Linked DNA regions of Homo sapiens: region 1 is linked to region 2. The links come from fine-mapping of genetic effects on gene expression. A gene starts in region 2. The other region holds a variant in brackets. All regions are shown on one strand. Distances are between the middles of the regions. Region 1 overlaps CELSR2 (cadherin EGF LAG seven-pass G-type receptor 2). Region 2 holds the start of CELSR2 (cadherin EGF LAG seven-pass G-type receptor 2).

The links.
Region 1: its variant is fine-mapped to the expression of CELSR2 in liver (GTEx, PIP 0.96).

Annotation. Positions count from the first base shown.
Region 1 is chr1:109,273,164-109,276,017 of GRCh38, forward strand. It overlaps CELSR2 (cadherin EGF LAG seven-pass G-type receptor 2), which reads left to right. Exons shown (of 34, transcript NM_001408.3): 32 at 3-173; 33 at 273-507; 34 at 859-2,588. The coding sequence ends at 886. Among named protein-coding and RNA genes, the nearest start is that of PSRC1, 8.6 kb to the right of the region's middle. RefSeq lists an enhancer at 1,089-2,854 and cis regulatory regions at 1,801-1,820, 1,805. The variant G/T (reference allele first, on the strand shown) is at 1,805.
Region 2 is chr1:109,248,046-109,250,940 of GRCh38, forward strand. It overlaps CELSR2 (cadherin EGF LAG seven-pass G-type receptor 2), which reads left to right and starts at 1,494. Exons shown (of 34, transcript NM_001408.3): 1 at 1,494-2,895. The coding sequence starts at 2,035. RefSeq lists an enhancer at 811-1,531 and silencers at 1,533-1,592, 1,753-1,852.

The DNA of each region.
Region 1 (2,854 bases), 25 kb after region 2:
AGATGGGGGCCCAGGGCCTGGCAAGGCCCCCTGGCCAGGAGACTTTGGGACCACAGCAAAAGAGAGTAGTGGCAACGGGGCCCCTGAGGAGCGGCTGCGGGAGAATGGAGATGCCCTGTCTCGAGAGGGGTCCCTAGGCCCCCTTCCAGGCTCTTCTGCCCAGCCTCACAAAGGTGAGTGGGGCACCCCCAGCTGCCGAGCTCCCCTAGTCAGCAGCCTCATACCTCACATTCTCCTGTGGCCGCACCTCACAGCCCCGCCCCGGCCCACAGGCATCCTTAAGAAGAAGTGTCTGCCCACCATCAGCGAGAAGAGCAGCCTCCTGCGGCTCCCCCTGGAGCAATGCACAGGGTCTTCCCGGGGCTCCTCCGCTAGTGAGGGCAGCCGGGGAGGCCCCCCTCCCCGCCCACCGCCCCGGCAGAGCCTCCAGGAGCAGCTGAACGGGGTCATGCCCATCGCCATGAGCATCAAGGCAGGCACGGTGGATGAGGACTCGTCAGGCTCCGAGTGAGTGTGGCCGGGTGGGCGGGACGGGGTGCAGCCCCTCGGAGGCCTCACCTGGGCCCAGAGCTGCCTCCGGGCCTCCCCAGGTGACTCTGGATGGCATTTGGAGGACAAATGGGCAGAACTGGCCCAGCTCCCTTACTATGCCGTGCCCACAAACCATGGTGCCTTGCGGGGAGGGCCACCCCTCCTAGGCTCTACGCGGCGCAGCCCAGCCTAGGGCAGAGTGCGGGAGGATGGGGAGCTGGGGGTGCTTTCCTGTTTCCTTCGTCTGGTGAAAGCTTTCACTCTCTCCTCTGTTTCAACTAACCCTCTGTCTGCCTTTTCTGCCACTTTCCTTTCCTGCCTCTCCAGATTTCTCTTCTTTAACTTCCTGCATTAACCCTGGGCCGTGGTTCCTACGCCCGAGGCTCCCTTCCCTTCCCCAGCCGCACTCATGCCCTGCTCCTGTCTTGTGCTTTATCCTGCCCCGCTCCCCATCGCCTGCCCGCAGCAGCGACGAAACGTCCATCTGAGGAGCCTGGGCCTTGCCGGGAGGGGTACTCACCCCACCTAAGGCCATCTAGTGCCAACTCCCCCCCCACCATTCCCCTCACTGCACTTTGGACCCCTGGGGCCAACATCTCCAAGACAAAGTTTTTCAGAAAAGAGGAAAAAAAGAATTTAAAAAAGGATCTCCACTCTTCATGACTTCAGGGATTCATTTTTTTTATACGCTGGAAATTGACTCCCCTTTCCCTTCCCAAAGAGGATAGGACCTCCCAGGATGCTTCCCAGCCTCTCCTCAGTTTCCCATCTGCTGTGCCTCTGGGAGGAGAGGGACTCCTGGGGGGCCTGCCCCTCATACGCCATCACCAAAAGGAAAGGACAAAGCCACACGCAGCCAGGGCTTCACACCCTTCAGGCTGCACCCGGGCAGGCCTCAGAACGGTGAGGGGCCAGGGCAAAGGGTGTGCCTCGTCCTGCCCGCACTGCCTCTCCCAGGAACTGGAAAAGCCCTGTCCGGTGAGGGGGCAGAAGGACTCAGCGCCCCTGGACCCCCAAATGCTGCATGAACACATTTTCAGGGGAGCCTGTGCCCCCAGGCGGGGGTCGGGCAGCCCCAGCCCCTCTCCTTTTCCTGGACTCTGGCCGTGCGCGGCAGCCCAGGTGTTTGCTCAGTTGCTGACCCAAAAGTGCTTCATTTTTCGTGCCCGCCCCGCGCCCCGGGCAGGCCAGTCATGTGTTAAGTTGCGCTTCTTTGCTGTGATGTGGGTGGGGGAGGAAGAGTAAACACAGTGCTGGCTCGGCTGCCCTGAGG[G/T]TGCTCAATCAAGCACAGGTTTCAAGTCTGGGTTCTGGTGTCCACTCACCCACCCCACCCCCCAAAATCAGACAAATGCTACTTTGTCTAACCTGCTGTGGCCTCTGAGACATGTTCTATTTTTAACCCCTTCTTGGAATTGGCTCTCTTCTTCAAAGGACCAGGTCCTGTTCCTCTTTCTCCCCGACTCCACCCCAGCTCCCTGTGAAGAGAGAGTTAATATATTTGTTTTATTTATTTGCTTTTTGTGTTGGGATGGGTTCGTGTCCAGTCCCGGGGGTCTGATATGGCCATCACAGGCTGGGTGTTCCCAGCAGCCCTGGCTTGGGGGCTTGACGCCCTTCCCCTTGCCCCAGGCCATCATCTCCCCACCTCTCCTCCCCTCTCCTCAGTTTTGCCGACTGCTTTTCATCTGAGTCACCATTTACTCCAAGCATGTATTCCAGACTTGTCACTGACTTTCCTTCTGGAGCAGGTGGCTAGAAAAAGAGGCTGTGGGCAGGAAAGAAAGGCTCCTGTTTCTCATTTGTGAGGCCAGCCTCTGGCTTTTCTGCCGTGGATTCTCCCCCGTCTTCTCCCCTCAGCAATTCCTGCAAAGGGTTAAAAATTTAACTGGTTTTTACTACTGATGACTTGATTTAAAAAAAATACAAAGATGCTGGATGCTAACTTGGTACTAACCATCAGATTGTACAGTTTGGTTGTTGCTGTAAATAGGGTAGCGTTTTGTTGTTGTTGTTTTTTCATGCCCCATACTACTGAATAAACTAGTTCTGTGCGGGTACAGCACTGTCACTGTCCGCTTCTGTGTGGTACCCTGTCCTCCCACAGGGAGGAAGGTCTGGTCTCTGGAAAACAGAAGAGCCGGCAGGGCCCAGAAGGCCCCACCGGGAGGTCGGGAGACTCAGACACCACTGGCTGATAAGCCTGTCCCTCTGCCCATGTCCATGACACTGCTCCCAAATAGCTGGATCAGCACAGAGCCCATTTCCTGGCATTTCCAAGGAAGACATGGTGGGCGGGCAGGAAGGTGTCCTTTTCACCAGGACG
Region 2 (2,895 bases):
TCCTGTTTCCCCAGGGGAAAAGAGAAAAGCTGATTTCTCATCCTTGGCCTCACTGTGTGGTCACACAGACACTCCTTGGGCCTGGGGCTGGGGGATCCTCTGCTGTGACCCAGTGAGAGTGGCACCACTGTGACCGGGGGCAGTGGTAGAAGGGAGCACCTGATCCAGTGCTTTTCAGATGGGTTCCTCCAGACCCTCAAGTTGCACAGAGCAGCCCAGGGATTTCTTGGTTGGGGGAGTGGTGGAGAGGGGCAAGGCCCTGACCCCCTCACTTCAACCCAGCAGCACTACTCATCTGTTCTATATTCTGGCCTTCCACTTCAGATTTCTTTTGAAGAAAAGAATTCTACTGCTAAATAAACATTTGAGAACCATTCACCTTATTCAATCCCCTCATTTTACAAAAAGGGACATTGAGGCACAGAATTTGAGCAAGGTCACATAGCTGTGGTGTTGGAGGCTGGGACCCAGGCCCAGGCATCCCCCCAGGCCAGGGCATCCCCCCAGGGACTACCTGACTGGGCCCCTGGCTGCTCCAGGATGTAGGGAAGCCTTTTCTGGGTCGCCTGCACGGCTCCTGCCTGGCTCTCCGTGTGGTCCAGCTTCATGTCTGGTCCTCTTGGAGAACCCCTGGAATCCTGCACACCCTCTCAAATGAAGCTGCCTTGGAGAGGGTCAGGAGCCCGGGTACCAGGTAGGCCTCCTCGCTGGTCACAAAACTGTGGCGGAAGGAGGGGGTAGCCGCAGGACATGGACAGGGAGGCAGGAGGGGATGAGAGGCCGCCTCTCTAGACAGGACCTCAGGGGGCAGTGTAAGCCCCTTGTCTAGAATCCAGGAAGCCTGTGTTAAAGCTAGGCTCCACCGCAGCCGGCCTCCGAATCTGGTGACAGTGTGTTTGCACCACCTGGCTTCCACCCACTCTGACCCTTCTAATTTACTTCCCTGGAAAAGCCCAAGTGGTGTCCAACATGAGGCTGGGGTCATTCTTCCAACAGCCCGACCCCAAGGGGCATGCTGGTCAGACAACAGCCTCGCTGGTGGGGTGGAGGGGACGGTAGGGAGCGAGTGGGCCCGGTGACTCATTGTGGGTGCTTCTCTGGGATTTTGGAGGCTTTGTTGTGTTGCTCAGGGCCCTTTTAACTCTGTCTGACCTATGGGAGGGGACAGCAACGAGGGCTTTTATGACTGGAATGAACTGGAAACTTGGCCTCTGAGAGCCCTTAAAATGTTTTGGAAACCTCTAGGCATACTTAGGGTACTTCCACCATGATTATCATCGGCTGTGTGGCTTCCGATCGCTAATTCGCACCGGGCATCTGGCGAGGCCGGCCTGGGGAAATTGGGATGGAGGGTCCTGCTGGAGGGAATCCTGGCGCTTTGGGCGGAGGAGTGCTCTGGGTGGGGCCCACCTCCTCCAGCGCGGCCGGCGTTGCCGCTTTAAGGCGGCCGCGGCGCGAGCAGGTCTATGGTAATGAGCCGCCGCCGCGACTCTGCAGAGCTCGCCCGCCCGCCGGGGAGGCGAGGGAGCGCGGGGCTGGGCCCGGGGCCGCGGCGACAGGCAGCAGCCGCGGCGGGGACGCGGGGCGCGAGCGGGCGGCGCGGGACCGTCGGGGGCCGCCGGGGCCGGGCCGGGGTCGGGGCGCACGGCTACGCGGGCGCAGGTGGGCGATCCCATAGGGGCGGAGGGGGCACCCCGGCTCCGGAACCCGGGGCCCGGCAAGGCCAGGGGCGCCGCGGGGCCCCCGGGCGCAGGTGGTGAGTGCCCGGAGCGCAGGTGGAGGCGCGGCGGCAGCCCGCGGTGCTCAGGGTGACCCGGGAGCGGGTCTGGCTCAGGGGGCAGTGGGAGCCCGGGCTCGTCGGAGGGTGCAGCGCGGGGTCCCGCCGAGCCATCCAGACGCAGGCCCCGCGGGGCGCACGGGAGGCCCCCGGGGACTGGCGCCCTGGCCCGGGCATGAGGCGCGGCGGGGCCGGCAGGAGCCGGAGGAGGAGCCGCCGCCGCCGTTGACCCGGCCGCCGGCCGGGAGCTGGGAGAGATGCGGAGCCCGGCCACCGGCGTCCCCCTCCCAACGCCGCCGCCGCCGCTGCTGCTGCTGTTGCTGCTGCTGCTGCCGCCGCCACTATTGGGAGACCAAGTGGGGCCCTGTCGTTCCTTGGGGTCCAGGGGACGAGGCTCTTCGGGGGCCTGCGCCCCCATGGGCTGGCTCTGTCCATCCTCAGCGTCGAACCTCTGGCTCTACACCAGCCGCTGCAGGGATGCGGGCACTGAGCTGACTGGCCACCTGGTACCCCACCACGATGGCCTGAGGGTTTGGTGTCCAGAATCCGAGGCCCATATTCCCCTACCACCAGCTCCTGAAGGCTGCCCCTGGAGCTGTCGCCTCCTGGGCATTGGAGGCCACCTTTCCCCACAGGGCAAGCTCACACTGCCCGAGGAGCACCCGTGCTTAAAGGCTCCACGGCTCAGATGCCAGTCCTGCAAGCTGGCACAGGCCCCCGGGCTCAGGGCAGGGGAAAGGTCACCAGAAGAGTCCCTGGGTGGGCGTCGGAAAAGGAATGTAAATACAGCCCCCCAGTTCCAGCCCCCCAGCTACCAGGCCACAGTGCCGGAGAACCAGCCAGCAGGCACCCCTGTTGCATCCCTGAGGGCCATCGACCCGGACGAGGGTGAGGCAGGTCGACTGGAGTACACCATGGATGCCCTCTTTGATAGCCGCTCCAACCAGTTCTTCTCCCTGGACCCAGTCACTGGTGCAGTAACCACAGCCGAGGAGCTGGATCGTGAGACCAAGAGCACCCACGTCTTCAGGGTCACGGCGCAGGACCACGGCATGCCCCGACGAAGTGCCCTGGCTACACTCACCATCTTGGTTACTGACACCAATGACCATGACCCT